3 separate regions of the Homo sapiens genome follow, and all the other regions are linked to region 1. The links come from fine-mapping of genetic effects on gene expression. A gene starts in region 1. Each other region holds a variant in brackets. All regions are shown on one strand. Distances are between the middles of the regions. Region 1 holds the start of MTHFD1L (methylenetetrahydrofolate dehydrogenase (NADP+ dependent) 1 like). Region 2 overlaps MTHFD1L (methylenetetrahydrofolate dehydrogenase (NADP+ dependent) 1 like). Region 3 overlaps MTHFD1L (methylenetetrahydrofolate dehydrogenase (NADP+ dependent) 1 like).

The links. PIP is the estimated chance that this variant, and not a neighbour inherited with it, causes the effect.
Region 2: its variant is fine-mapped to the expression of MTHFD1L in nucleus accumbens (GTEx, PIP above 0.99). The same link has a PIP of 0.9 or more in thyroid and tibial artery.
Region 3: its variant is fine-mapped to the expression of MTHFD1L in whole blood (TOPMed, PIP above 0.99).

Annotation. Positions count from the first base shown.
Region 1 is chr6:150,860,167-150,870,945 of GRCh38, forward strand. MTHFD1L (methylenetetrahydrofolate dehydrogenase (NADP+ dependent) 1 like) reads left to right here and starts at 5,536. Exons shown (of 28, transcript NM_015440.5): 1 at 5,536-5,883. The coding sequence starts at 5,657. RefSeq lists silencers at 5,378-5,607, 5,668-6,077, 6,238-6,437, 6,558-6,707.
Region 2 is chr6:150,882,017-150,892,795 of GRCh38, forward strand. MTHFD1L (methylenetetrahydrofolate dehydrogenase (NADP+ dependent) 1 like) reads left to right here. Exons shown (of 28, transcript NM_015440.5): 5 at 746-870; 6 at 3,618-3,718; 7 at 5,829-5,965. Among named protein-coding and RNA genes, the nearest start is that of MTHFD1L, 22 kb to the left of the region's middle. The variant T/C (reference allele first, on the strand shown) is at 4,856.
Region 3 is chr6:151,000,585-151,011,363 of GRCh38, forward strand. It overlaps MTHFD1L (methylenetetrahydrofolate dehydrogenase (NADP+ dependent) 1 like), which reads left to right. Exons shown (of 28, transcript NM_015440.5): 21 at 9,235-9,374. Among named protein-coding and RNA genes, the nearest start is that of MIR12131, 97 kb to the right of the region's middle. RefSeq lists enhancers at 8,372-9,110, 9,111-9,847. The variant G/A (reference allele first, on the strand shown) is at 5,839.

The DNA.
Region 1 (10,779 bases):
GATATTACAAAACAATGAATTCGGAACCATTATAGATTGGGCACCTCGAGGTCAATTCTACTGCAATTGCACAGGACAAACTCAATCGTGTCCCAGTGCACATGTGAGTCCAACTGTGGACAGTGACTTAACAGAAGGTTTAGATAAAAATAAGTATAAAAGGTTAGAGTCTCTATACCCTTGGGAATGGGGTGAAAAGGGAATCTCATCACCTCGACCAAAGTTAGTTAGTCCTGTTACTGGTCCTAAGCGTCCGGAACTTTGGAAGCTTACTGTGGCCTCGCACCACATTAGAATTTGGTCTGGAAATTAAGCTATAAAAACAAGAGATGGTAAGCCATCTTATACTATCGACCTAAATTCCAGTCTGACAATTCCTTTGCAAATTTGTGTAAAGCCCCCTTATATGCTAGTTGTAGGAAAAATAGTTATTAACCCAGATTCCCAAACTATAACCTGTGAAAATTGTAGATTGTTTACTTGCATTGATTCAACTTTTAATTGGCAGCACTGTATTCTACCAGTGAGAGCAAGAGAGGCCATGTGGATCCCTGTGTCCATGGACCAACTGTAGGAGGCTTCGCCATCCATCCATATTTTAACTGAAGTATTAAAAGGAGTTCTAAATAGATCCAAAAGATTCATTTTTACTTTGATTGCGGTGACTACGGGATTAAGTGCAGTCACAGTTATGGCCGCTGTGGCAGGAGTTGCATTGCACTCTTCTGTTCAGACGGTACACTTTGTTAACAATTGGCAAAAAAAATTCTACAAGATTGTGGAATTCACAATCTGGTATTGATCAAAAATTGGCAAATTAGATTAATGATCTTAGACAAAATGTCATTTGGATGGGAGATAAGCTCGTGAGCTTGGAACATCATTTTCAGTTACAGTGTGACTGGAATACGTCAGATTTTTGTATTACACCCCAAGCCTGTAATGAGTCTGAGCCTCACTGGGACATGGTTAGATGCCATCTACAAGGAAGAGAAGATAATCTTACTTCAGACATTTCAAAATTAAAAGAACAAATTTTTGAGGCATCAAAAGCCCATTTAAATTTGGTGCCAGGAACTGAAGCAATTACGGAAGCTACTGATGGCCTCGCAAATCTTAACCCAGTCACTTGGGTTAAAACCATCAGAAGTTCCATTATTATAAATTTCATATTAATCCTTGTGTGCCTGTTCTGTCTGTTGTTAGTCTGCAGGTGTACCCAGCAGCTCCGAAGAGACAGCGACCATCAAGAACGGGCCATGATGACGATGGCAGTTTTGTCAAAAACAAAAGGGAGAATGTGGGGAAAAGAAAGAGAGATCAGATTGTTACTGTGTCTATGCAGAAAAGGAAGACATAAGAAATTCCATTTTGATCTGTACTAAGAAATATTGTTCTGCTTTGAGATGCTGTTAATCTGTAACTTTAGCCCCAACCATGTGCTCGCAGAAACGTGCTGTATCAAATCAAGGTTTAATGGATTTAGGGCTGTGCAGGCTGTGCCTTGTTAACAATGTGTTTGCAGGCAGTATGCCTGGTAAAAGTCATCGCCATTCTCCATTCTCTATTAACCAGGGACACAATGCACTGCGGAAAGGCGCAGGGACCTCTGCCCAAGAAAGCTTGGGTATTGTCCAAGGTTTCCCCCACTGAGACAGCCTGAGATATGGCCTCATGGGAAAGGAAAGACCTTACATCCCCCAGCCCGACACCCATGAAGGGTCTGTGCTGAGGAGTAGTGAAAGAGGGAGGCCTCTTTGCGGTTGAGATAAGGGGAAGTTTTCTGTCTCCTGCACGTCCCTGGGAATGAAATGTCTCAGGGTAAAGCTGATCATGAGATAGGAGAAAACCACCCTGTGGCTGGAGGCAAGATATGCTGGCAGCAATACTGCTCTGTTACTCTTTGCTACACTGAGATGTTTGTGTAAAGGGAAACATACATCTAGCCTACATGCACATCCAGGCACAGTACTTTTCCTTGGACTTATTCATGATACAGATTCCTTTGCTCACATGTTTCCCCTCTGACCTTCTCCACATCACCCTGTTGCCCTGCCACACTCCCCTCACCAAGATAGTAAAAATAGTGATCAATAAATACTGAGGGAACTCAGAGACTAGCACCGGTGCAGGTCCTCACATGTTGAGCACCGGTCTCCTGGGCCCACTGTCCTTTCTCTGTACTTTGTCTCTGTGTCTTATTTCTTTTCTCAGTCTCTCGTCTCCACCTGACGAGAAATACCCACAGGTGTGGAGGGGCAGGCCCCCTTCACATGTTGGTCAGGCTGGTCTCGAACTCCCGACCTCAGGTGATCTCCCCACCTTGGCCTCCCAAAGTGTTGGGATTACAGGTGTGAGCCATCGCACCCGGCCCACTTTCTAATTTTTTCTCCTACTGTTTTTCCCTCCGTAGTCTCTTTTGTGGCATTGTCTTCCTCTGCTTCTTTCTTGTTTGTGTTTTTTGGTGCTATTGTAGGTCCTCCTGTCTTCTATACACTCTCTCGGTGATCTTACCCATAACCATGGTTATCAAATCTGTATCTCCATTTTTGAACTTTCTCCTGAGCTATACATCCATGGATCCAACATCCTACTCCACATCTCCACTCTGATATCCCATAGGCATGCCAATCTTGATAGGGCTAAGCCTGTTGCTTCTCTCCTCTGGTCTTCCTCTAGGAATAGCACCACCTATACTTCAAGCCAGAAAGTGGGGCTTCATCCTTGACAACTTCCTTCCATATACCCTCTAAATCAATCAAATCCTAAAGGCTACCAATGGTTCCTCTTACTTATCTCATGAATCCATCCACTTTTCACCAATCCATTGGTCAAGGATATACTCAGGAACTTCTCGTTTCTTCTCCTGTTACTGAAACAGTCTTCGGATTTGTCTGCTGCCTTCACTTTCTATTGTCTACGCTGTCGCTGCTGTGATCCTTCTACAACACACATCTGAGATTGCCACTCTCCTAATTCTAAATCCTTCAGTTGTTTTCCACTGCTTTCAAAATGCAATGCAATGGGCTGGGCGCAGAGGCTCACTCCTGTAATCCCAACACTTTGGGAGGAGGCCGAGGAGGGCAAATCACCTGAGGTCAGGAATTTGAGAGCAGCTTGGCCAAGATGGCGAAACCCTGTCTCTGCCAAAAACACAAAATTAGCCAGGCATGGTGGTTGGCTGTAATCCCTGCTACTTGGGAGGCTGAGGCAGGAGAATTGCTTGAACCTGGGAGTGGAGGCTGCAGTGAGACAAGATTGCGCCACTGCACTCCAGCCTGGGCAATAAAGCTAGATTCCATCTCAAAAAAAAAAAAAAAATGCAATGCAATGGTTTCGTGACCTGCCACAACGTGGCCCTGCCCAGCTCTTCTTACTTGCCATTGCTACTCATTTTCCCCTGCCCTCCCCACTCGACTGAACAGCTCTCAGTATCTCAAATTCATCATGCTCTCTTCTACTCCAGACTTTTGCTCATGTTGTTCCTTCATTTCCAACATTCCCACTTTTCCAACACTGACCTTCCCTTAGCTCATTTCCTTCCCTTAGCTGACCTTCCCTTAGCTCAACTGCTAAGGTCTTGCCTCCAGCTGCCACCTCTTTCACTTTCTTCAGGAAGCCTTTTTTTTTTTTTTTTTTTTTTTTTGAGACAGGGTCTCACTCTGTTGCCCAGGTTGGAGTGCAGTGACACGCTCACAGCTCATTGCAGCCTCAATCTCCCAGCTCTGCCAGTAAACAGATGGGCCTCTCTGGACCCCAGTTTCCAAAGGTTGAAGGTCAAGACAATAGCTCTCAATTCCCTACTTTTGTTAGGATTGTATGAAGGGTCCTTCCAGCACTGTCCCAGTATGGTGCTCGGCTAATGGAAAACCAATCTCTGTAACTTGGACTAGTTTTATTCCCACCTTATCTGGGAATTATAAGGGTATAAGGTTGTAAAAATATAAAGTTAACAATCTGACCCTCACTTGGGAATCATAAAATTACAATCTGATATCCACTTTACTTGGAACTTATGGTCAGCCCTCTGTATCCTCAATCAACCTGGGACTGAAAGTATTTGAAAAAATTACAATAACAAAAAATAATAAAAAATCATAGAAATAAAAAAGTACAGTGTAATATCTATTTACATAGCATTTACATTGTATTAGGTATTATAAGTACAGCAGGTCCTGGAATAACATCATTTCATCATTTTGCTCAGTGGTTTTCTTATAATGATGAGAAAAAAATAGATTTCTGGCTGGGTCCACTGTCACGTTTTATCCATGTCTGTGTGGATTTTCTCTGTCTTCTGGTGTCCTGTCACATCCCAAAGCCGTGCAGTGCACTTTAGGTAAATTGGTGCATCTACACGATCCGAGTGTGAGTGTGGGTGTGTGTGAGCACACCCTGTGAGGTGCCCTGAGTTGGAATAAGCCGGTAAAAATGATCTCACTTTTATTAATCTTTATTTTTCTCTAAGCGAGAGGGATAGGGGGTGTTTAAAAAAAACTTTTTCTTTGAGACAGAGCTGTGCTCTGTCGCCCAGGCTAGAGTACAGTGACATGATCTCGGCTCACTGCAACCTCTGGCTCCTGGGTTCAAGCGATTCTCCTGCCTCAGCCTCCCGAGTAGCTGAGAATACAGGCACGCGCCACCACACCCAGCCAATTTTCTGTATTTTTAGTAGAGATGGGGTTTCGCCATGTTGGCCAAGCTGGTCTTGAACTTCTGGCCTCACGTGATCTGCCCACCTCAGCCTCCCAAAGTGTTGGGATTATAGGCGTGAGCTAAAAATCTTCCTTAAATATATGCATGGCTCACACTTATTTCAATGTTTAATATTAGAAGTGTTTTGGTCTTTATTTCGAAGTTTAGGGGCGATTTTGTGACCACAGATATGTTGTAGGAACTTCACTCATATCAATTAGCCTGTGGTCAAACTGTTTTCCTTACAGTCATTTGGCTTAAAGTTTCAGTTTCCAAGAACCCCTCCACGATGTTAGGTGAGGACTTAGGGAATGTGGAGATGACCTAAAGTTTATGATGGGAAGATGTGTGTAGGTGATATGCAAACACTTTTTTTTTTTTTTTTTTTTACCAAGGACTTGAGCATTTGTGGACGTGGGTCCCCTGGAGGGGCCCTGGAACCAATCAGGACTATAAAATCCTTTTAAGGTTTTAAGAAGAGCATTGTTATCTCTGTGGTACTGACGAAGACCCCGCAAGCTCACCGAGATTAAGTGCCCCTGCCTAAGGTTACAAAGCCTCTTATCCTCAGGCCACCTCCAGTACAGCAAATCCAAGCCCTCCCGTCTAAACTTGGCGCCCTGAGTACCAAGGGTCACCTCGGCCTTTCAGGCTGAAGGGAGGGAGGCTGAGTCTCAGGGCAGAGTCTGAGTCCCACTCCGCACCCCACCCTCTGTCTGGTACAGCTTACCAAACCAAAGTGCCCAAAGCCGTGACATCCCGGCCGGCGGCTCGCAGGCCCCCGCCCTCCGCACGTCACGGCCGCCGGGTGCAGTGCCCCCTAGGGGCCCCTGGGACGAGGAGGAAGCGCCAGGTCCTTCCCGCCGCCGCCGCCGCCGCCGCCGCCTGCTCCCCTGGCACGCGCCCCGCCGCCCTCGGCAGCCGCAGCTCCGTGTCCCCTGAGAACCAGCCGTCCCGCGCCATGGGCACGCGTCTGCCGCTCGTCCTGCGCCAGCTCCGCCGCCCGCCCCAGCCCCCGGGCCCTCCGCGCCGCCTCCGTGTGCCCTGTCGCGCTAGCAGCGGCGGCGGCGGAGGCGGCGGCGGTGGCCGGGAGGGCCTGCTTGGACAGCGGCGGCCGCAGGATGGCCAGGCCCGGAGCAGCTGCAGCCCCGGCGGCCGAACGCCCGCGGCGCGGGACTCCATCGTCAGGTGAGTGTCGGGTCTGGCCCTGGCCCAGGTCTCCAGCGGCTGTGGCCCCGACCCAGGGGCGGAGCGCCCGGGACCGCCGTGGGGAGCGGGGCGCGGGGCTGCGAGTGTTTGGTGCCAACTCATTAGGGGGGCCGGGCGGTGTGTCGGGAAACGCGGGCTTGGGCACTGCGGCCGGGAGCGCTGGCGGAGAACGGGGGATCCAGTACCCGACCGGGCCCGCAGCGCAGGTGGGCGTGGGCATCTCCAATGGGCGCCTAGCGGCATGGACCGCACGCCCGGCTCCACGTGCGCAGCCGGCCGCCGGCTCTGATGCAATCGCGCCGGGCGCGACCCAGACGGTAAAGGGGCGGTGCGGCTGGGGCGGAAACCAGGGGAGGGGGCGAGGAGCAGGAGGAGGGCGGGGCTGCGGCTCGGCGCGCCGGCTGGCCCGGGGTTCGGGAAGGGCAAGCGGAGCTCGGGAGAGGCGGGCTCGGGCCCAGCGCCGCCCGCGCGAAGCTCCCTGGTGTTGTGCGCCCTTCCCCGCGCGCGGCCCCTCCTGCTGGGCTGGGGTCTGTGGCTGACGTCCGCTTTTCCCGGAACGGCAAAGGTGGAGCCGGGCCCCCGGGACAGCCGCCGGGGGGAATCCGAGAGGTCTCAGCGCTGGTTTCCAGCTTCGCCGCGCAGCGCCCACGGAGTCCCCGCGCAGCTGGGTTTGCAGGGTTTTCTGCGGGCCCAGAGCGAACTGGGAGCCCCGGGCCCGGCCTTTCCCGTCCCGGTCCCCGCCCCTGGGCTCCAGCCTTCCCCGCCCTCGCCCAGAGGGGCGCACGGGTCTCGGGCCTTGCAGGGCGAGCCCTTCGGGACAACTTGGGGGTGGCAAGAAAGCCCCTTCCGCCTCCCTCGGAACTGGGATTAGGAACGAGTTCCAGGATGCGGTTTCCCCGGCCAGCGGACCACCTCCTCCATTCACATCCTCTTCCCTTTCCTTCTAGCCTTCTTTCTTAGTCATTGCCTGCTTGCCTTTCTCTCTGCCTTTCCTTCCTCCCTCTGCTCTCCCATTTTCCTCCCCACTCCCCTTCTCCCATCTCAGTAAAATACGTTTCCTAGGCTCTTTATTATGTGGCGGATGATTTTAAGGGGCCATTTATTTAGTTTTTCTTGTTCTCTGTCTTCTTTTTCTTTTAGAAATGGAGTCTCGCTTTGTTGCTCAGGCTGGAGTTCAGTGGTGCCATCTCGGCTCAATGCAGCCTCCGCCTCCTGGGCTCAAGCGATTCTCCCGCCTTAGCCTCCAGTGTAACTGGGACCACAGGTGTGCGCTACCATGCCCGGATTATTTTATTTTATTTTCATAGAGACAGAGCACCACTCTGTTACCAGGCTGGTCTGGAACTCCTGGGCGCAAGCCATCATCCCTGCCCCCAAAAGCGCTGGGATTAATTACACGTCAGGTCATTAGGTTTTAACCTGCACGTTGCTGAGACTCATCTTACCGGTTAGAGTCTGAAGCCAGGATAGGCGGCAAAAAAACTTCTCCCGTCATGCTGTTTTATTTTCTAGGTAAACTGATTATTACCTGAAACTTCCTTCTTTGCTCATTTCTTGTCTGTCTCACCCACCTGGAATATGAGCTTCATGAGACAGCCGTCTCTTCGGTGCTATATCCTAGGTCCTGGAGAGAGTGCCCAGCATGTAATAAGCACTTGTGAAATGGTTACAGAAGGAATGCTTCAAGATTTGGGGTCATCTGTGGGTTTTATTCATACATATTCTTTTTTTTTTTTTTTTTTTTTGAGACGGAGTCTTGCTCTGTCACTCAGGCTGGAGTGCAATGGCACGATCTTGGCTCCCTGCAACCTCTGCCTCCCAGGTTCAGGCGATTCCCCTGCCTCAGCCTCCCGAGTAGCTGGGATTACAGGAGCACGCCACCACGCCCGGCTAATTTTTGTATTTTGAGTAAAGACAGGATGTCTCACCATGTTGGCCAGGCTGGTCTTGAACTCCTGACCTCAGGTGATCCGACTGCCTTGGCCTCCCAAAGTGTTGGGATTACAGGCGTGACCCACCGCGCCTGGGCTATTCATGCATACTTTTAGGTTTAAAGCCATGACTGCCTTAGAGATGAGTAAAGAGGTTAGTAGGGGGCTTTAGGGCCTGCACTGGGTTCTCCAAACTCAATTCCTTCAGGAAAATGGGAGGAGTAACAGTACTTACCTCAAGGGGTTATGGAAACAATTATGTGAGAGGACACATGCAAAATACATAGCCCAGGACTGTCACATACAAGACAAGTCCCTCAACAAATGGTGGCTATTAATTTTTTTTTTTTTTTTTTGAGACGGAATCTCACTCTGTCGCACAGGTTGGAGTGCAGTGGCGGGATCTCGGCTCACTGCAACCTCCGCCTCCCGGGTTCAAGCGATTCCCCTGCCTCAGCCTCCTGAGTAGCTGGGATTACAGGCTCGCACTACCACGCCTGGCTTATTTTGTGTTTTTAGTAGAGACGGGGTTTCACCATGTTGGCCAGGCTGGTCTCAAACTCCTGACCTCGTGATCTGCCTGCCTCAGCCTCCCAAAGTGCTGGGATTACAGGTGTGAGCTACCATGCCCAGCAATATTTTTACAATTCACTAAGCCAGGGGTCCACAGACGTTTTATATATAATGGGCCAGATAGTAAATATTTTAGGTTTAGTGATCCTAGAGGCAAATCAAAATTATTAGTAGGTACATTTATAACAAGAGAAAAGACAAATTTAGGCCAGGCACCATGGTTCATGCCTGTAATCCCAGCACTTTGAGAGGCCAAAGTGGGATGATCACATTCCCAGGAGTTCAAGACCAGCCTGGGCAACATAGTGAGACACCCATCTCTGTAAAAAATTTTAAAAAATTAACTGGGCGTGGCGCGTGCCTGTAGTTCCAGCTACTCAGAAGGCTGAGGCAGGAGGATCACTTGAGCCCAGGAGGTCAAGGCTACAGTGAGCGGAGATTGCGCTACTGCACTGCAGCCTGGGCAATGGAGTGAGACCTTATTTTTTATTTTTGCAATTAAGTATTTTTAATTAAGGTATGTACATTTTTTAGACAATGCTTTTGCACACTTAATAGATGGCAGTATAGGGTAACCATAACTTTTATTTTTATTTTCTATTTTACTTTAAGTTCTGGGAAACGTGCCGAACGTGCAGGTTTGTTACATAGGTATACATGCGCCATGGTGGTTTGCTGCACCCATCAACCCGTCATCTAGGTTTTAAGCCCCACATGCATTAGGTATTTGTCCTAATGCTCTCCCTCCTCTTGCCCTCCCACCCCCTGACAGACCCTGGTGTGTGATGTTCCCCTCCCTGGGTCCACGTGTTCTTATTGTTCAACTCCCACTTATGAGTGAGAACATGGGGTGTTTGGTTTCTGTTCCTGTGTTGGTTTGCTGAGGATGATGGTTTCCAGCTTCTTCCATGTCCCTGCAGAGGACATGAACTCATGCTTTCTTATGGCTGCAATTTTATTTTTGTAGAGATGAAGTCTCACTATGTTGGCCAGGCTGGTCTCAAACTCCTGGGTTCAAGTGATCCTGCTGCCTCAGCCTCCCAAAGTGCTGAGATTGCAGGCATGAGCCACCACGCCTGGCTATATTGTACCTTTCAATTGAGTTATGTGCATGGTTTACTGAAACTCTAGCCCTGAATTGATTCTCCGAGGATTGGAGCAAAGTGGGTGGGGGTGTGTGTCAGCTAGAAGTCACCTGGAATAGACATCCAGGAGCGGAAGTGTATTAGTCAGAAAAATTAAAGAATGAGCTCCCTCAAAAGCATAGTGACCTGTTGTTCCTGGTGATGGGACTAGATGACCATAATCCCTCAGCCTCCCAAGTAGCTGGGATTACAGGCAGGCACCACCACACCCAGCTAATTTTTGTATTTTTAGTAGAGACGGGGTTTCACCATGTTGGCCAGGCTAGTCTTGAACTCCTGACCTCAAATGATCCACCCGCCTTGGCCTCCCAAAGTGTTGGGATTACAGGCATGAGCCACTGCCCCTGGCCAGTAATAATACATTCTGTATAATAGTCACAGTAATGGTGAAAATAACAAAGCTGCTGCTGATGGCTTAGTTCTGAGTTTTAGCTACACATGGCAACCTAGCTAGAGAGCTCACATTCCTTCCCACTGTCCTCAACCAAAGTGGAAGCTCACAAGGCCATTTTTCTGCCCCAAGGACATGAAAATCTCTGATTAGAAACATTTATGCTACTTTTTGGATTTATTGAGCCTAATGACTCCTTTTTCTTTCTTGCTTTGTCACTGTAGGAATGAGTAACCCCAAAAAATGAAACATTACACATATAACAAGTTGTAGGGAGCATGAACCTATTTTGTTTTATTAGCTTGGGTGGTAGTAGCGTTGAACTCCTTTACATACCTGTACAGGCACCCCTAAGATATTGTGGGTTCAGTTGCAGACCACTGCAATAAGGGGAATATCGCAGTAAAACGAGTCACACAAATTTTGTAGTTTCCCAGTGCATATAAAAGTTATGTTTAGACAATACTGTAGCCTATTAAGTATGCACTAGCGTTTTGTCTAAAAAAAAACCCATATATAAGGCCGGGCGTGGTAGCTCATGACTGTAATCCCAGCACTTTGGGAGGCTGAAGTGGGTGGATCACGAGGTCAGGAGTTCGAGACCAGCCTGGCCAACATAGTAAAACCCTGTCTCTACTAAAAATACAAAAATTAGCCAGGCATGGTGGTGTGCGCCTGTAGTCCTGGCCACTTGGGAGGCTGAGGCAGGAGAATCGCTTTAACCCGGGAGGTGGAGGTTGTGGGGAGGCGGAGGTTGTGGTAAGCCACTACACTCCAGCCTGGGAAACAGAGCGAGACTCCGTCTCAAAACAAAACAAAACAAAAAAACCCAAAA
Region 2 (10,779 bases), 22 kb after region 1:
TTGTTAAGTGAGATGAATCAGGATCTTATCTCCTGGCATAAAATAGACAGAGAGGACAAAGCATTGCTTATTTAGAGACACACCCAGACATTTATTAGCTTCCCAAAATGTAGCTTGGTCTTTTTCCTAAATAGTGAATTATTTTAGTGTTTCCCATAAAAGGAGCTGTGCATGCTAAGAATTTTTCTAGCATAAGCCTTTGGAAAGGCTTCTTGTGTGTCATTGAGGTCCAGATAACCCGAGGGCCTCTGTGACTGCTTGGACGTCATGATTAGTGAGCTGTGTTGAACACATTGTGTTTGAAACGCACAGGCTTAGCTGGGCCAGATTGGAATGCTTCAGATTCATGCTTCCTGTCCTTCCTGAAAACTGGCAGTGTGTTTGGCTTAAAGTATGCTTGTTGACAGAGAAGTGTCCTTTGTCTATCTAAACCTTAATAGCTGTTGAGCTTTGGTTTTGTTCTGTTTTGTCTTTTTCTGGCACAGAGTAGAGCCATAGAAAGGCAGAGAAGTCACTAAAAAATTCAGCCAAGCCTTTTAATTTTTTTTTTGAGCCTTGTACACATGATGAAAAGAAAAAAATAGGCTTTTTATTATGCTTTACACCAAGTTTCCAACAAGGAGCAAAACAACAACAAACTATAACAGATGCATTTTCATGAATCCACTTTTTATATAAAGCTTCCTTTGTTGGGTCTCATTTTCACAAAACTAATTTTTATTTTGTTTTTTTGTTTTCTCTTTAGATTATAGATGAAATCTTAAAGATCAATGAAGATACCAGAGTACATGGCCTTGCCCTTCAGATCTCTGAGAACTTGTTTAGCAACAAAGTCCTCAATGCCTTGAAACCAGAAAAAGATGTGGATGGGTAAGAAAATAAAATCAAATAATCAACCTTTATGGCTAAATCACTTTTTCTATTGTGCCTGCTTTTATTTTTCTAAATTTCTTCTATTTATTTCAACTGTGTCAGTAATTGGATAAAAAAATCATTTTAAATATTTCAGGAGTCTATAGGATTTTTTTTTTTTTGAGATGGAGTCTCGCTCTGTTGCCCAGGCTAGAGTGCAGTGGCGTGATCTTGGCTCACCACAACCTCCATCTCCTGGGTTCAAGCGATTTTCCTGCCTCAGCCTCCTGAGTAGCTGGGATTACAGGCATGCGCTACCATGCCTGGCTAATTTTTGTATTTTTAGTAGAGACGGGGTTTTACCATGTTGGCCAGGATGGTGTCTATCTCCTGACCTTGTGATCCACTCACCTCAGCCTCCCAAAATGTTGGGATTACAGGCGTGAGCCACCGTGTCTGGCCATCTGTAGCCTTTTAAAATTCTGCATGCAAAAGTTACATATTTTGGAAAATACATTAGCCCTTTTATAGTGCTTCAATGCCATATGATCTTACACCATCAGATTCATTTAATAAATTCCGGTCTGACTTATACAATCTTTAGCCAGCTCTATTCTTCTAATAGTTTTTTCCTTGGTAATTCTACCAGACCAGAGAAGAAAACTTAGAAACCTGATTCCCCAGCAGTACCATATTCTGTCTTAGTCCCAGGCCAGTTGAGAAAAGCAAAATAAATACTTTTCTTAATGACACAAGGTTTTATTTGAAATTTGGAGGGGAACATCATAACTATTGGGTGCTGTAATGTTGGCCTGTGATTCATGTCATGGAGTGACATAAGCTTCATAGAACAAAGGATACCGGCCGTCTCCAGTGGGGGATAAGCATGCTTCCTGGGGATTAAAACCCCATTTTCCTCCATGGAAATATAGGAAGTGTTTTGTACTGTGGCCAAAAAGAACACAATGTGTTAATGGTTATAGGTTGTAAGCAGATTTATAAAGTTAGATTCCAGATCCGGTAGACCCTGCAGGGGCTGGATGGGGAGGCTACCACCTTCCTGAGACACCCAGCAATCTTCCATTCTAGCCTTTTATTGTGACTTGAGTAGACCCAAACACAGGCTGAAAAGGTGTCATGAACACCTCCAGTCCTGGCTGGGCACAGTGGCTCACACCTGTAATCCTAGCACTTTGGGAGGCCAAGGCAGGAGGATCTCTTGATCTCAGGAGGTCAAGACCAGCCTGGACAACATAGTGAGACCTCATCTCTATTTTTTTTTTTTTTTTTTGAGACAGAGTCTCACTCTGTTGCCCAGGCTGGAGTGCAGTGACACGATCTCGGCTCACTGCAAGCTCTGCCTCCTGGGTTCACACCATTCTCCTGCCTCAGCCTCCCGAGTAGCTGGGACTACAGGTGCCCACCACCACACCTGGCTAATTTTTGTACTTTTAGTAGAGACGAGGTTTCACCGTGTTAGCCAGGATGGTCTCGATCTCCTGACCTCGTGACCCGCCTGCCTCGGCCTCCCAAAGTGCTGGGATTACAGGAGTGAGCCACCGCGCCTGGCCCCTTGTCTCTATTTTTAAGTAAATAATTAAACATTTTTTTAAAAAACGACAATCTCCAGTCCTGTCGTAGACTAACTGTAAAAGGAGAAGAAGCACTAATCCATGAGAAAACTTTCAGAACTTGAAGGTCCTAGGGCATAGTTTCAAGTCTTTCATAAAAGGAGGGGAATTCATGCTGAGGCCCAGCCAGGAAAAACCAACCAAACAAAAACAACAGAGAGTAAAAGGAGAAATTACGAAAATGGTTCTAAATGTCTCCATTCTGTTACTGAGATTGACGTGCTCAGTTTAGGCTAGATAGCTGTGGAATGTTTTGTCCTAGATTTGAACAGGGAAAGGCACAGAACCCTTCAGAAGTGTGTGGTCACTCATTTTTTCCACTGCCCCCCACCCCGACTTCTCAAGGAGATAAATATCGAGGTCAAGTTGAAATCAGACCTGTGACCTGTGCCTCAATCCCAGGTCTTACTGGGTCACTCCAGATTTATAGGATTGGTTCTGGGTTTTGAGTGGACTGCAGGACCATGCTTCTGTGTAACTCTAGGGATGCTAGTCCATTGGGGTCCATTGAAAGGAGCTCCCTGGAGTTGCGAAGTGAAGCCCTGTATGGCTTTAGGCTGTGTCCTGGTATATTGGCAGAACCGGAACACCCAATGTCAGGGCCAGGGTGAAGTTTCCTAAGGTACTGCCTTAGAATTTTCTAAGACCTTTATTGAATGGCCTTTATTGCCTGCTTTCTCTTTAATTCATTTTTTATGGGTTTTTTTTTTTTTTTGAGATGGAGTCTCGCTCTGTTGCCCAGGCTGGAGTGCAGTGGCATGATCTCAACTCACTGCAACCTCTGCCTCCCAGGTTCAAGCGATCCTCCTGCCTCAGCCCCCTAGTAGCTGGGATTACAGGCACGTGCCATCACGCCCAGCTACCTTTTGTATTTTTAGTGGAGTTGAGGTTTCGCCATGTTGGCCAGGCTAGTCTCGAGCTCCTGACCTCATGTGATCCACCCGCCTCAGCCTCCCAAAATGCTGGGATTACAGGCGTGAGCCACCATGCCTGGTCCTCTTTAATTCATTTTTATGTATTCTGTCTATCAAACATTGACTTGGATGTTATTTGGGGTTAATATATGTACATTACACGTGAGTGATTTTTTTGGCTGGGCTTTGACTTAACCTACTTCTTTATTTTCTGATTCAGAGTAACAGACATAAACCTGGGGAAGCTGGTGCGAGGGGATGCCCATGAATGTTTTGTTTCACCTGTTGCCAAAGCTGTAATTGAACTTCTTGAAAAATCAGGTAGGATGCTCCTTGAGAAATGCCGCTGATTTCTATTTATTGGTATTTACATTATTTTTAATAAGGATTTGTTTGGGGAAGAATTAAAAATTTTTTTAAATTATTATTCTGATATCCTTTTAGGATGTTTCTAGAAGATTCTAATTGAACATAGAAGTGATATTTCACGTTGACTTTTTTTATTTTTCTCATCTTTTGGGAGATACAGATGAATACCTAGAAACTTTTTCTAGTAAGACCATCTTATAAATTAAAAGAGAAATTAGTAGAGATAAACGATTAGCCCTGTTTTAAACATGCTCAATTTCTCTCATGAAACAGTCAAAATAACCACAGTAAAATATGCTTCCAGTTTCAGCTTACTAAATCTATCAATATGTAGCCTTAGATAAGACTTACGTTGAAGACTTAAATGAGGCCAGGCACAGCGGCTCATGCCTATAATCTCAGTGCTAGGCGAGGCCAAGGCCAGAGGATCACTTCAGGCCAGGAGTTCGAGACCAGCCTGGGCAAACATACTGAGACCTTGTCTCTACAAAAAAAATTTAAAAATTAGCTGGGTATGGTGGTGTGCACGTGTAGTCCCAGCTATGCTGGAGGCTCAGGCGGGAAGATCGCTTGAGCCCAGGAGTTTGAGGTTACAGTGAGCTGTGATTGCACCACTGCACTCTAGCCTGGGCAATATAGCAAGACCCTGCCTCAAAAAAAAAAAAAAAAAAAAAAAGAGAAGAAGAAGAAGCCGGTAGATGTAGTTTAGGGCACAGGAGCCTAGGTTGGGATTTATTGGTGAGCAGCTTGCTTTTCAGTAGTCAGGACTTAATTTCCATTGTTGTCCCCTTGACTTGGCGTTTTTATGTCAGTGAAATAGAAATGAATATTTTCTCTTTCTTCATTATTAAGTTTAATGAGTAAATTACTACCAAGTATTTATATATTTAAGGGCTTTCTGAGAACATAAAGATTCAACTAATTGGGCCGGCACAGTAGCTCACACCTGTAATCCCAGCACTTTGTGGAGCCAAGATGGGAGGATTGCTTGAGCCCAGGAGTTTGAGACCAGCTTGGGGAACATAGGGAGACTCCATCTCTACCAAAAAAAATTTTTTTTTTAATTAGCCAGGTGTGGTGACTTGTGCC[T/C]GTAGTCCCGGCTACTTGGGAGGCTGAGGTAGGAGAATGGCTGGAGCCTGGGAGGTCAAGGCTTCAGTGAGCTGTGATCACACCGCAGCATTCCATCCTGGGCAACAAGCAAGATCCTATCTGAAAAAAAAAAAAAAAGAAAAGAAAAAATTCAACGAACTAAATCTTTTTCTCTACTCCAGTTTGAATAGAAATGAAGCAAATGCCCCTCCCTACCCCTGAACATCCAACAATCAAAGAAAAATTTCAAAAATATATGGCAAAGTTTTATTAAAAGGTTAACATTCAGGATATATATGCTTTTTGGACAGTAATATTAAGCTCAAATCTATGAAATAATCCATATATACAGTGCTTTTTCATTACGTGGATTATCAAGATGAAGATTCTGAGCCACTTCATTAGAAAGTACTCAAAGAAAAGAGTAAATTAGGCTGGTGAGTTATAGTTACATATTGTGGAAAGAAATTCAGCAACAGGAATTGGAACCAAAAGGGTTTGAATAGAGAATTTTTGTTGATTACAACACCCCACTCCTAGTTCCTAGTCATTGTAGGTTGGTGCTGAGAAAGTTCAAGTTTTAAAAGGGTTTTTTGTTGTTGTTGAGACATTCTTGCTCTGTTGCCCAGGCTGGAGTGCAGTGGCGTGATCTTGGCTCACTGCAACCTCTGCCTCCCAGGTTCAAGTGATTTTCCTGCCTCAGCCTTCTAAGTAGCTGGGATTATAGGCATGTGCCATGACGCCTGGCTAATTTTCTATATTTTTAGTGGAGGCGGGGTTTTACCATGTTGGCCAGGCTGATCTTGAACTCGTGACCTGAAGTGATCCGCCTGCCTCAGCCTCCCAAAGTGCTGGAATTATAGGCATGAGCCACCACACCCAGCCTAAAAGGGTCTTTTTTTCTTAAGATAAAGTTCTTAAAGGAAGGATCTGAAGTTTTGAGTATAATATTGAATTTTCATTTGGTTAGTAGGTGTCAACCTAGATGGAAAGAAGATTTTGGTAGTGGGGGCCCATGGGTCTTTGGAAGCTGCTCTACAATGCCTGTTCCAGAGAAAAGGGTCCATGACAATGAGCATCCAGTGGAAAACACGCCAGCTTCAAAGCAAGGTAAATTTCATGTTAGAAACATACATCTTGAAGGCTTCTGTTAGAACAGAAGAAAGTCTAGAAATGTATAAGCTAAGTGCTTAATTCAAGAAATTAGAGGAAGAAAATTGAATAGACCCATATCCATTAAAGACATTGAATGAGTCTACTCACCAGACAAACAAACAAGAAAAGGCAACAGGTGGTTTTACAAATGAGCTCTATCAAACAAAGAACAGATCATTCTAATACAATCCTTTTCTCCAGCAAATGGAAAAAGAAGGAACGTGGCCTAACAGACTTTATGAGTGCCAAAACCAAAGAAGGGTAACATGCTAAAGGAAAATTAACAGGCCAGTTTCAGCTATGAATATAAATGAAATAATCGTGAGCGAAATCTGAGAACACCAAATACAGCAGGAAGTAGGGTTTATTTTAGGATTTCCAGGTGATTGAACATGAGAAAGTCTGTCACTGTAATTCACCACATTGTGATTAAAAACTAAATTCTCACCATAGTAAGTACAGAACAGTCATTTGGTAAATCTAATATGCATTATGACCTTTTGAAAGTAATTATAATTTTGATGAAAATTATTAAGAAGACCCATATAAAAGCAGAGGTATCATCTTCATGGAGAAGATGCAATATCTTAAAGATACTAATTGTCTGCAAATTTTGTAGAATTTGACAGTCTGATTCTGAAATCCAAATGGAAGCATAAAGGACAAAGAGAGTCAAGACAATTTTGTGGAAAAACTAGGTGGGAGACATTCCCAGCCACACAGTGTGAATTATTATGCACTTACAGTAATTAGGATAATATGGTAGACAAACAGACGATCGGAACAGAAGAAAGTGGAAATTTATGCATATATGGAAGCTTGAGAGCAGGTACCACAGATCAGTGGGGAAAAGATTAACTATTAAAGGCCGGGCGTGGTGGCTCATGCCTGTAATCCCAGCACTCTGGGAGGCTGAGGCGGGCAAATCACTTGAGCTCAGGAGTTTCAGACCAGCCTGGCCAATATGGTGAAACACCGTCTCTACTAAAAATACAAAAAAATTAGCCGGGCGTGTCGGCGCAAGCCTGTAATCCCAGCTACTCGGGAAGCTGAGGCAGGAGAATCGCTTGAACCCGGGAGGCAGGGGTTGCAGTGAGCCGCGATCGTGCCACTGCACTCCAGCCTGCGCGACAGAGTGAGACTCCGTCTCAAAAAAAAAAGCTAAAACATTAACTATTAAAAATGGTGCTGACTTAACTAGTTATGTATATGAGTCTAGCATAGGATTACTAACCTGCCACTACATATAAAAATCACTTCTATATTAAAATACCTAAATGTGGAAAGCAAAACTGTAAAACTTATAGAAAAAAATATAGGCGTATGCATTTAAGAGGTTGGCGTTGGAAGGATAGCTTAAGAGACCCCAAAAGCACAGATTGCTAAAGAAAAGGTATATAAATCTGACTGCATCCAAATTTTTAAAAACCCCAAAGTTTTTCTTTCTGAAAAGAAGTTCTTAAAAAAGTGAAAAGACAGCTATAGTGTAGAAGATATTTACAACAAACATTTAGCCAATAATTAGTGTCTTATAAAAGATTCCTACAAATCAGTGAGACAAAGACAATCTGTTAGAAAAATGGACACATGACAGACCACTAACAGGTGAGGAACCCGAGGTTTAAAAGACACGTGAAAAGCTGTCTGGTTTCCTGCTGTTTTTGCTCACCAGTCATATTGGCAGTAGGTAAAAAGTGCCAGTTAGCCATATTGACAAATGTCTGGAGCTATGGGAATTCATATATTGCTGGCGGGAGTTTAAATTTGAAATAGGCATTTCGGAAAGCAGTTTAATGGAGTTTGAGCTACTCTTTGACCCAGGAATTTCACTCTAAATATATATGATATGGCCAGGCATGATAGCTCACCCCTGTAATTCCAGCACTTTGGGAGGCTGAGGCAGGCAGACCACCTGAGGTTGGGGTTTCAAGACCAGCCCGACCAACATGGAGAAACCCCATCTCTACTAAAAATATAAAATTAGCTGGATGTGGTGGCACATGCCTGTAATCCCAGCTATTCAGGAGGCTGAGGCAGGAGAATTGCTTGAACCCGGGAGGCAGAGGTTGCGGTGAGCCGAGATCACACCATTGTACTCCAGCCTGGGCAACAAGAACGAAACTCCGTCTCAAAAAAATAATAATAAAAAGTGTATATATATGTGTGTGTGTATATATATATATAATAGACAAAACTTGCCCATATATATACAAAGGTGTGTTTACAAATGGTCAGAGCAGCATGTTTATAGTGCAAAAAGTTTTGTTTGTTTGTTTAAGACAGAGGGGCAGTGGTGGTTCTGTGGGTCTTGGCCCCTTTCTGCTGTCAGGGCTGAGTTGGCTCCATGAGTTGGTGAAAGCGGTATCTAGCCAGGTTCAAGGGAGACAGGGGCAGGATTTCGCCTTCACTGATGGGCAGGCCAGCGGTCCCCTGTGGAACGGTGACTATTGAATATTGAGAGGACAGTATCCCTCCCTGAGCATCTTCTGGAGCTTGATGACCACTAGGGAATGTATCTGAGTCACGCGCACCAAATATGTTACCGGTGGCAGCTATTCGAGTTATCCCGAGTTCGTGCTGGTGTATCCGTACAGTTCTGCAGCAACTTCAGCTCTTGCCTCCTCGGAAGAAAGAATTGGACTGAGGGCCATAAGGCAGAAGGAGAGACTGAGGCAAGTTTCAGAGCAGGACGGAAAGTCTAGCAAAAAGCTCTAGAACAGTAAGGAAAGGAAAGAAGGAAAGTATAACTTGGAAGAGAGCCAAGCAGGCGACTTGAAAAACCAAGTGCACTGCAACAAGTATTTAAACAGTGATCTAAATGCCCATCAGGGTGAAAGGATAAATCAGTATAGTTGCATGTAGAGTATGCATAGTCATAGTTCATAAAACAATGATATACAAGCAGTGAAAATTAATAAACTAGAGCTGTAGATAGCAACATGTTTTCTTGTTTTGTTTTTTGTTTGTTTGTTTTTTTGAGACGAAGTCTCCCTCTATCCCCCAGGCTGCAGTGCAGTGGCGCGAACTCGGCTCACTGCAACCTCTGTCTCCTGGGTTCAAGTGATTCTTCTGCCTCAGCCTCCTGAGTAGCTGGGACTACAGGTGTGCGCCACCATGCCCAGCTAATTTTTGTATTTTTAGTAGAGACAGGGTTTCACCATGTTGGCCAGGCTGGTCTGGAACTCCTGACCTCAGGTGATCCGCCCACCTCGACCTCCCAAAATGCTGAGATTACAGGCATGAGCTACCGCGCCCGGGCTGGAAGAATTTTTTAAAACACTGTTCAGTGAACAAAAACCCAAGTTGCAGAAGGATGTATTTCATACAACACCATTTATATGTGTCTGAAAGCAACACAACATATATATATATATGTAATCTAATACATACATACATATAATATGTATTACATATAATCCTTATATATATATAGAATCTTAATATATATATTTAGGTCAGGACATTTAGATCACTGTTTAATATATATATTAGGATTATATATAATATATATTATATTATTATGTATTAATTATATAATCCTTATATATATATTAGGATTCCATGCAAATGAAGTAAAAATATAAAGAAATAATGCAAACTACGAACCAAATCCGAAAAGCATTTATTGAGGCAAGGATGTGGATATAGATGGAAAGGAAACCTAGACACCTTCATGCCTTTTTTCTTAAACTGGGCAATAGGTGTTGTCTAGGTATGTTAGGTTATTGTTTTCCATTTCTATGTCTGAAATGATTGTTTTTCATTTTAAAAAATGATGGTACAGCTCACAGATCTAAAGCAAAGTGAAGTTTTAAATGAATGCATTAAGTACAATCAGTAACTACAGAATGTGATCTAAAAATACATGTTCCTCATGTTGCAGGGTGAGAATGGAAATGAGGAGTAAATTGTAATCGTGCCAGGGAAGCCAGGTGTCTCAGCAGATTTGGAATCTTTGCATGGCAGGTGGATCCAATTTATGTAATGCTTGGGTTAAGACAGCTCAGGAAGGCAGCCTTGCAATGAAACGTGAACCTGTGTGCGTTTTTAGCAGTCACCACATGGTGGCAGCCTATCCAAGAAAATTCAAGGGCAATAGTTTGCACTTGAGAGCCCAGAAATTTTGATTTGGAAGCTCAGTGGAAGAGGAAAATAAACCGTGCCCTGCACTGAACAGCTGTGGTGAAGAGAGAAAATACCTTCCTTGGCAATTGAATGTTTTCGCAGCTGTCACAGATACTTTTGCTAGTTGTATCTATATTTTTGAAAAACAAAGACATTTTTCAAAGTACTTTTTTATTACGGGAATAAATCACCTTGTCTCTGTACTTTGGGATGAATCTCATCTGAACTTTGAGAACGATTAAGTGGCTTCACTTTCTGGAGAATCTGGTCATTGGGTAACATTCTTGTTTTCATATGGACCAGAAGGTTCTCTTTCATAGTTGATGTTGCACACACGTTTTTTTCCCTAAGTCCTTGGTATTTATAGTGGCACCATTGCGAATGTTAGAGGCTATCAACTTTCATTCTTATTATTGCTTCATCTTTGTAGCCAAAAATATGGGAAGAAATGTTCATAGCCCCGCCCCATACTTGTCCCCCTCTACCTGGCCTACCTACCTACGTCAGGCTCCTGTCCCACCACAAATGACAGCCTGTGTCTTTCATGTTAGCAGCTAGTCTTTCACTAGCCACATACTTCCCCGTAACCCATATGCCTCCCTGTGTCTGCCTGACGTTTGAATTGTCACTATTCTGTTGTTGTA
Region 3 (10,779 bases), 140 kb after region 1:
TATTTTTAAGCTGCAGTAATAATGCCGAATTTCTCTTATAGTTAATTGAATGATTTATCCTGGTGTTGTCTCCTGGTAGTCACTGAAAAAGTCATTACAATCCTCACTTTCTCCCCTTTAATTCAAGTTCAGAATTCATGTGTTGCTGTGACTTTTTTTGAGTTTATCTGCAGACAGCTGCCATTGAATAAACATGTTTATATAGGGCAGAAAAAGGCAGCCTGAAGATTCTACTTTCTATTTCTTTTAGCACTGTTTGGCAGTTAACACCAACAGCGCTTCAGAATGAGGTACTGTCCAGCATACACCTTGCTTGTTCCTCTACAAAGCTTCTATTTTTGTTTTTGATTTGTTGTGAGGAAGCAAAGTGTAGCCTTTACTTGAATGAAAGCTACAGTTTTATTTTTCTTTCTTATTTACAAGAAATTCTTTTGATGATTAAGTTAGCCAGATACGCCCCGTGCGCTCATATTTCTTAACCTATTTTGAGCTGAGCTAGTTGCAAGGACTAGTTCTTCTGTGAAACCTCTGGCAGTCCATAAATTCAAGTTCGTGTCCAGACGTAATGGTGAACTCAATATGTTGTATATTTGATATATGTTTGTTGCACACATGGAGAGAAAAGTTGCTACCATTGTGAAGTAGCCATGAAATCCGACAGTTCTAATTTCTTTATCTTCTGAGTACCCATGGAATAAAGGACCTCTTAGTGCCATAGCAAGGCAGAAGTTTAATTTGCAATTCTGGTGGCAACATCCAGGTATTTCAAGTAGAAATTAAGAAAACTTTACGGAAAAACTATCTCAGCACTTCAGTTTAACTATTTTTCAAAGTCCAAGGAGGGTTTTCCCCAGTGTAAAAGCAGAAATGAGAATTTCAGATCTAAAGCGGTTCTTGCCTTTTCTTTTCCCTCCATGCACATGTGCTGACAACAGAAAGTAAAATTTGAAAAGAAAACCCAGGCTAGAGCATTGGGGTCACTCATTTCCCATCCAGCGAAGGGAGAGCTGGTGCCTGGCTGGGGGAGGTTAGGAAGGCAAGTCTTGGGATCTGATCACTCGGCTGGGAGTGGGTAAAATACCTGGACCTCAGGAGGCCGGATTGCAGCGCCAGTGTTCTCTACCTGTGTGGCCTGTTCCTGCCTGGGGTTGGGTACCAAGTCCAGGTGGAAGTGGTCCCTGGAGCATCCTCTCTCTGAAGTGTTTCTTTGTCAAACAGAATACTCCCTGCTGCTGCCCCAGAACTCATCACTGTTGACACATGGACCAAGAACTAGCAGAGGAGGTGATTTATAATCTCTAAATGAATTGCTCTAAAAGAGACAACAAGCACTCTGACTTAAGTAAAGGAAGGGAGGGTGGGTGGAAAGGAAGGAGGATCATAAAGAACATTCTAGATTGCATACTTTGGTAATCACAGCAGGGCCTTATTGCAGTTAGAACAAAAGCCTGGACACACTTACCTCTCAGTTCAGGAAAATAATTTAGAGCTACTTGTTAAATGCTGGAGTATTATTGAAGTACCAAGTGTTAAGATTTTCACTGAAAGCAAAACTGACCAAGCAGCTCAGCTAGGGAAATGCTATGTGATCAGTTGATTGTTTGATGAGGAGTATGGAGCAGGGACTTTGGCAGAGGTTGCTAGCAGACAGGCCTTGGTTTTAGTCCAAGCTCTATCGCTTAATAGCTGTGTGACCTTGGGGAAAATTATAAAATTTTCCAGTCCTTAGTATCATAAACTGTAAATGGAGGAGAAAGATGCCTCACAGATGTTGAAGGTGAAGTGAGACAGGACACCTAGTACATTGCCTGGCTACATAGAAAATGTTTCACAAATGTTAACTTGAGGCCCTCTCCCCATGCCTCGGTCTCTTAGAATGGTTTTTCCCCATCGTGTGCACATTGAGCGGTAAGGCGGACAGCTGCCGCCGCCCATGCTGCCCCATGTTGAGAGCATTTCTGTTGACCTTCCCTTCTTCCCTGTGAAGCTGGTTCAGCAGTCACCTCATCACTGTTTTTCTTCTCCAGAGAGTGCTGGGTTGTAGCGACCATACTGTTGACGCAACACATCCCAACCACGCTGGACGGAATTTTTACTGCGATAATTCATATTCCAGGATCTTACAGTGCACAGGGTTACAACGATTAGCATAATGATCTTGCACAATCTTTCTGCCTAGCATGTAGTGCATTCGTAATATTCTCAGAGGAGGCGTCTAGAAAGCGCCAGGCTCCTTCCTCCTGCGTGAGCCACTGCAAGCTGTCGGCGCCTCAGTGCTATGGAGACCTTGGGTGGATTATTCCTTGTTGGCGGGGGGAGGGTCCCAGCTGTCCTGTGCATTATAGGATATTTAGCAGCATCCTTGCTAGATGCCATTTACAACAATCAAAAATGTCTCCAGGCATTGCTAAGTGTCCAGGTGGGGAGCGGAATAGGCAGAACCGCCTCCAGTCGAGAAGGGCTGAACTGTACTTAGGATTTGTGATTCTGCAGAAATGGGTTCTGTGAATGCACTAAAGCATGAGAACATCCAAAAATCAGTGTGGCACAGAACTGAATTCAAATTTACCTGGATCCAGGTAAATAAGCACAATTTTGAAAGTACCAAACAGAATTCAAGAAAAACAACAACAACAACAAAAAACACATTAAAAACAGAAAAGTTGGCCGGGCGCCGTGGCTCACGCCTGTAATCCCAACACTTTGGGAGGCCGAGGTGGGCGGATCACCTGAGGTCAGAAGTTCGAGACCAGCCCGACCAACATGGTGAAACCCTGACTCTACAAAAAATACAAAAATTAGCCGAGCGTGGTGGTGGGTGCCTGTAGTCCCACCTACTCGGGAGGCTGAGGCAGGAGAATCGCTCGAACCTGGAGGGCGGAGGTTGCAGTAAGCCGAGATCGCACCATTGCATTCCAGCCTGGGCAAAAAGAGTGAAACTCCATATCCAAAAAAAAAGGGGGGAAAGGTCAGAAAGACGTTCTTTTTCACTAGGTGATGAATTAATCTTTCCCATCTTTGTCATGTTAAAAATGTGCCTGTGGCTGTTTCTCCACTAAATGAAGACACTGGCACACAGATGATTGTGTGTAAACACTAGGCAAGACACTAGGCACAATCGTAGGGGTTCAGTAATTATTGAATGAGAAGAAAGAAAGGTTGTTCTTGAATTCTGTGATGTGAGTGTTTAATGATGTTTTTGAGGAGAATGCCATATGTAGCAGACAGAACCCTGGGCTGGGCATCAGAGGGACCGGGGGCACCACACTGGGCTTTGTGTCATTATCTCCAGAAAGTAACTGGCCTGGTGCACAGGAGAAAGTTAGAGTACATTGTCCATACAGTTCCCACATAGCTGTAGGGTTTTATGAACCCATATTTTAAAGGGCCTTCTAATGAAGTGAGGATGTTAATGCTTTTTTTTAAAAAAAAAAAAAAAAAAAGAGAGAGAGAGATTGGTGATTACTTTAAAATCTGAGTCCTGGCCAGGACTCACGCCTGTAATCCCAGCACTTTGGGAGGCTGAGACGGGCAGATCATTTGAGGTCAGGAGTTCGAGACCAGCCTGGCCAACATGGTGAAATCCTGTCTCTACTAAATACAAAAATCACGCTCCTGTAATCCCAGTTACTTGGGAGGCTGAGGCAGAAGAATCACTTGAACGTGGGAGGCGGAGGTTGCAGTGAGCCAAGATCACACCACTGCACTCCAGCCTGGGCAACAGAATGAGACTCCATCTCAAAACAAACAAAAAAATCCAAGTCCTAATTATCGCTGCAGCTTTCTTTAATGTGTGCAGTAAGGTGGGGACATACAGAATAACTTAAGATGTAGAAATCGTCTCTCCCTCCCTGAAGAATATCATGGATACTACATTTGCCTGCCAGGAATGTTGTGTTGTTCTGGTGTTCTCGTTTCTGCCGTTATCATTGTTTCTGCTTAATTTTTACAACACAACTCTGGCCGCACCCGTGGATGATCATGGAAAGGCAGCTGCCTGGCTTTCCAGAATTGTTTTGACTCTCCATCTGAACCCAGAGCTCTGTTTCCTGTACAGGTTGCTAGCAGTATTTACCCAAATTGTCCCTTCCCAACTCAGACCCACTGACCCTTCCTTTCTCAGCTGATTACGGGTTTAAGTTTGAATCAAACCATGCTATAGAATCACTATCTAGCAGCTTCTGTGCTTGCACAATAAGAGTATTAGTCAGCGTTTCCTGTTTTCATTCATATTGTAAGTTGAATAGCTGTAACAAAAGGGAAAGAGATTGCCAAGACAAATAATTCTTATGGCTTGTGCAAACAATTTATTACAAGCCTTATTAAATATGCAGCTTTCAGAAGTCTACGTGATATGCCTTTCAGCAAAGCTAAATCCTACTATGTGGACTTGCTTCATGACTTAAGAACAAGTCTATATTGAATTTAACATTAAATAATTATTTGGCCTGTATCTCTTTTAAGCTTTGTTAAGAACTGCAAATATGATAAGGGAATAAATTGCTCATTTCAAGTCACTAAGAAAACCTAACCTATAGGTTATATATGTTGGCAGTTCCCAAGAAGTACCTAGGAAATGGAACCTTCCTATAAGAGTGGTTTGTCCCCTTCTCACGAGATGGGTCTTCATATCAAGGCCCCCTAAGGCACAGATACACAGCACTCCACAGTGTCCAAGTTCGTAGTAATTGGTGGCACCTTATTAAAGTAGTTTTTACTTTCATAATTACTGATTACACATCAGCATACCTTTTCCATGTTCTGTTTCCTTGGCAGCCTGATATTTGAATACAAACGACATAAAAGTGATTACATGCAGCATTTCAGGACAGTTTTCAAACTGAGAGAATTTGGCACTTTCTTTTATTTTCTTCCCATTCTTCGTCTATTTCCTTTGCATTTGGAAGCCAAACTCCTCGAACCTTTACTTCTGCATGTTGTTTTCGTCCCCTAGCTAGAGTTCTCTTTATTACTACTTTTTTGTTTCCAATTGGTCTCTTTTTAAAAATAAAACATGGTGAAACCCCATCAATACAAAAATTAGCCGGGCATGATGGCGGGTGCCTGTGATCCCAGCTACTCGGGAGACTGAGGTGGGAGAATCAATTGAACCCAGGAGACGGAGGTTGCAGTGAGCTGTGATCGTGCCATTGCACTCCAGCCTGGGCGACAAGAGTGAAACTCCGTTTCAAAAATAAATGAATAAGTAAATTAAAATATGAAATTAAGCTTAGCTAGCCTGTGTAGATGTTTTAGATGGTCATATCTTTATCGGATATGACATTTATGCCTTTCAGTAAAACCATTGTAGTATTGTAAGAAAAAAAGGGAAGTATGATAGGGAGGACTAAGAACATATTTGTACTTCTATGTAATGCTATTTTATGTGTCTATTTCCATTGAAGTGTGGCCTTGACATCACTGGCTCCCAAGTCCCATCCTGTTTTTTCATTGACCTGCTTGTGCCAGGTACTGCGTTAGGAAGTGGAGCTACCAGATGAATAAGGCGTGGTCCCGCCCTCCATGTGGGAGACGGCACGTCAGTGTACTTAGGATGCTGCATGTGGTGACAGATGAGGGCCCTGCAAGGGAGCACACCACAGGGCCGGGAGGGTGGGATGGGCGGGAGGAGTAGCCAACTTTGCCCGAAAGCATCAGGACAAGCTTCCAGGAAATGGCACATCCAAGCTGAGTCTTGGACAGCGGGTTAAAGAGGCAGAGAGGGGAGAGAGGAATGTTCCACATGGGAAAAGAGGTCTGGAGGTGACAACAAGTAACATAGAGTATGTGGGCTGTGCCGGAAGCTTGATATTACAGAGGCACGAAGTCTGAGGCAGG[G/A]AGTGTGAAGGAAGATGAAGGTAGGGGAAGGAAGTTTACACAAGGGTGGCCTTGACTTTTATATTAAGGCACTTTAGGGAAGCAGGAACCACTGAAGACAGGAGAACATGGTGACTACACGGGCGCATTGAAGGGGGGAGGAGCTAGGTTTTTGAAGGGAATTTGAGCTTGCAATTTTTCAAGGGCATTCAATGGTTATAAATGAAACTTTTCATTAATATATTTGTGTCCAAGTGTTTTTAGATGTGCTTTTCTGCTACTCTCTTTTTATTTGGTTTGGAGATAGATGGTGACTTTCCTTCAGTGCCTTCTATGTGTCTTGACATGTTAATGTCTCAAACACATGGTCCGTATCATCATGGAGCTTGCAATCTAACAGGGTAGTTTAACACATAAATATGCATCCAGTTGGAAAGAACTTAGAGATCACTTGATCAGCCCCCGTTATGTAAAATGTATGCAACAATCTACCTCCAACTATAGGGCGACATTAAACAGTTTTTCAAAATACCATGGCATTGAAAAAAATGCGTAACATTTGGGTTACTTCAGTCCCACTCCCCGGTACTAATCAGGCCAGTGAACCAGTCTTGCTGGTGAAATAATGACTTCTCCAGTCATGATGGATGATTTCCCTTCATCATGACCATTTCTTCCCTGGCTCTGCCTTTACCTATGAATCTCTTCTTTCCTCCCTCTCCTTCCTCCTCTTGGTCTCTGCCTGCCATACCCAACTCCACATTTCTCTGCTTGGAAAAATCCTACTTGATTCTCAGAGCCTGACTCCATCACCCCCTCTCTCCAACCCTCCCAGGCAAACTCCGTCCCTCCCAGTGTGCCGCCCTCCAGCTCTCTCTAGTTGAATAGCAGATGTTCTCTCTCCCACTTCCCTGCAGGGCTTCAGGGTAGTGACCCTAAGAGTGAGCTTCTACCAGTGAGAAAAACGCCTGGATGGAGCAGGAATTCCCACAAATGCTTAGGAATTCAATATGATTTTTAGCAAGTGGGAGAATTATCCTTTTGGTTACAAAGATGTGAACTATTTTTGTGAGTTCTCAGTATGCACCAAGAAAAACCCCAGTGACTCAGTAATGTACCTGTGCCGTCTCACTTAACCCTTCCAACAAGGAACTTGCCAAGGTGCACAGCTGGGAGGGATCCGGGGTCCCGTCCGTGTGCTAACCTGCAGGACAGCGCCGCATAATCCAGTACTGGGGCCTTATTGTCCAGCCTTCCACCTCCAGGAGCCCACTCAGTGATGACTTTTGACAAAAGTCACCCGGATTATCCCTCTTTTGGGGTCCATGATGCCACCAACGGCTAAAGTTAACAAATGCATTACCAGGAGGTACCACTGAGGTAAGGATTGTTACTGTAAGTGATTTTCTCTGATTTTGACCACTACAAGTAAAATCACAAGATTTGTCCCAAATACTATATAAAGAGGAATGTCTTTTATTTCTCGAAATTGTTCTGCCACTTTGTTTGTTCAAATAACACATAATAAAGGATAAATGGCTTGTAGCTATATTTATCCAAATTGAACATTTTTGATGTAATTTTTTTAATTTGTCAAAAGCATATCAATGGTCATAAAAATTTTTTATGTCCTCTGGCCCTATTACCTTACCCTTGGGAATTTATTCCAAGAACGTAATTTGAAAGAGATTAAAGCACATAGGCACAAATATTTTCAGTGCAGTATTGTTTATATTGGAAACAACCCAAATGTTCAGTAACAGGGGGAACAATTTTGTAAATCTTGCTACAGCAACTTAACAAAATTATAAGCTGCCACTTATAATTGTAAATTTTGAAAGTTTGTAGCACAGCAAGGAAACTGATCATGTTAAATGTTTCTGATATCTTAGTTAATTTTTCTCCCGCCAGTTCCGATCGGTGTCCTGGTCATACCGTCAGCATATAAGTATGTATTTCATAAACATTTACTTTGTATTAACTCAGTAGTATTCCCTTCCTAGAGTGGTTTGCTTCCCAGATTGTAATGGACAATCATCTCACCTGGGGATCTTGTAACAATGTGATTCTGATTCTGTAAACTTTGTGGGGAGCCCAAGATTCCACATGTCTTAGAGGCTCTCAGATACTGCTGATGCTGTTGATCACGAATCACGCATTGAGCAGCAAGGTCCTAGAGCTCTTTGTGTATGAAGAAGATACTACTGACCCAGTGCCTCGCTATCTTGAAAGGCAGCTGTGACCTTTCTAGCAACTGAGGGGGTGGGGACTAGAAACGAGTGTTTTCTGGTGTTTCTCTAATAAAGCTGCTGTCTTGTATCCAGATTGACCATCAGTATCCTTATGCCCTTCAACTAACTTGAAATTTGTCAGTTAACAGAAATTACTGGGTGGCACTAAAATAAATTATTCTTAATATAAAGGGTAAGAAAGGGTCGGGTGTGGTGGCTCATGCCTGTAATCCCAGCACTTTGGGAGGCCAAGGTGGGCAGATCACCTGAGATCAGGACTTTGAGACCAGCCTGGCCAACATGGCAAAAACCCGTCTCTACTAACAATAAAAAAAAAAAATTAGCCGGGTGTGGTGGTGGGTTCCTGTAATCCCAGCTACTTGGGAAGCTGAGGCAGGAGAATCGCTTGAACCCGGGAGGCGGAGGTTGCAGTGAGCTGAGATTGTGCCATTGCACTCCAGCCTGGGGGACAAGAGCGAAACTCCATCTCAAAAAAAAAAAAAAAAAAAAGAGTAAGAAAGGATCTTCCATTGTAATCATACTATCATTGCCTTTTGAAACAATTTGGAACCTGATTACAAAGTTGAAAATCCCCATCTGTATGAAGAAAAGCTTCACTGGCTGGTCACCTTGGCTCAACGCCTGTAATCCCAGCACTTTGTGAGGCTGAGGCGGGTGGATCACAAGGTCAGGAGTTTGAGACCAGTCTGGCCAACATGGTGAAACCCCATCTCTACTAAAAATACAAAAATAAAAAATTAGCCAGGTGTGGTGGCAAACACCTGTAGCTACTCAGGAGGCTGAGTCAGGAGAATCGCTTGTGCCCGGGAGGCAGAGGTTGCAGTGAGCCGAGATCATGCCGCTGTACTCCAGCCTGTGCGACAGGGCAAGACACCATCTCCAAAAAAAAAAGCTTCACTGTGAGTTATGATATGGGAAGAAAAGTCTTGGCCTGGCCACCACAAGGAATCCCTCAGGCCTGGCGGTGGGAAGCAGAGGAGGGCGCAGTCTCTTTAGGGCAGAAAGTGAAGAACATTTCTATGACAATGGGGAAATCAGTTCACCTTTGTGTTGGTAAACAAAAGGAATGTAAGCTGTCCTTTGAGCTCGAATCATAGTGGTGATTGCCAAAACCTACCTTTGTTTTTAGAAGATAATAGCACATATTCCACTTGCTTCCCCACAGTGACCGAAGCTGGCTTTGGTGCTGACATCGGAATGGAGAAATTCTTCAACATCAAGTGCCGAGCTTCCGGCTTGGTGCCCAACGTGGTTGTGTTAGTGGCAACGGTGCGAGCTCTGAAGATGCATGGAGGCGGGCCAAGTGTAAGTGCCCACACCGCCTTCCTAATACCAAAGAAATTTCATTATGTTAAAACAGAATTGAGCATTTGAAAAATTCCTGCCCATTTAATGACTATAGTTTTCTAGAGTATTTTTCTTAAAACTTTTTTTTTCCTGTAGACCTCCCTCGTGGACATCTAAAACGTTTTTTGTTTTGTGTTGTTTTTTGTTTTTTCCCAACACCACCATAGGGCACTTTGAGTTTAGTAAGTTCGAGTAAACAGTAACACCCACAGTTCTTTCTAAACAATATTTTGGAAAGGAGCATAATGCAACCACTTTTTAGTCTCAAGCTTCACATCTGATACTCAGGCCAAGATTGTATAACCATATGGTAATGGGAGGTTAGAGGCTCTTGTCCCTGAACGAAGAACAAGAGGATTAGAGTGAGTTCTTTGATGACAGAGATTTTTCATTGTTTGTACAGATAGTTTTTCGGTTCACTGATGCTGCAACTCATCAGATTTCATCTAAAACTATTTTCCTTCTCTTTCTGTTTATTATGATTTCTCCTCACAACTCTGTTATAATACTGGATTGTTTCTAAGAGCTTTGCTTGGAAAACACAAATTCGATTTTAACTTCTTTAAAGACTTTTTATATTTACCTATCCTAATATATATAGAAATTACAGACATTATAAAGGAAATATATTCCTTTCCACAGAAAACCTGTGCATAGATTTTTGGGGGTTTTTTTGTTGTTGTTTGCTTGTTTGTTGTTTTTTTGTTTCATTTTTAGGAATTTCCAAGTGGAGAATAAGACATTTTATACTGATTAATCATTTTGAAATAAAATAAAATTTCTCTATCATAATATTCACATATGAGACGAACTGCCAAATCTGATTTCTTAATTGGTATACTGTACTGTGTATGTGACAAAAGTCATATATTCAATGATTATTGCATAGTCAAAACAAGTAGCAGGTTTGCCATCATGAAACGCTGTAAAGCAATTCTTTCTCCTGGGAGAGGTGGACATGATTTTTATACCATTTTACAGATAAGGAAGCTGAGTTTTGATAGGCTTAGGGAATATGGACAATGTCAGCAGGCCAGCAGAGAGCCGAGAACTTCAGATCTAAATCTCCTACTATGTCCACCATGCAGAGCTGGATGTTAATGAAGGGCAGAAGTTTTCTAAATCCAAATCCACTCCTAATACCCGACACTTAAGCACTTCATTTTTGCCTAAAGCTTCATCATCATTTCAAATGCAAGAATGATATAATACAGATTAAAAGTAGTAAATCATAAAGAATTCTGACTTCACTCAAAACACCCCTTGTTGCTACAGTCCTTCCTGGATTTTAGACATTGAATCTGTATAACAACTTCTATTTTTAAAAACTACTTCCGCCCATGTAGGATGCATTTGGAATTCT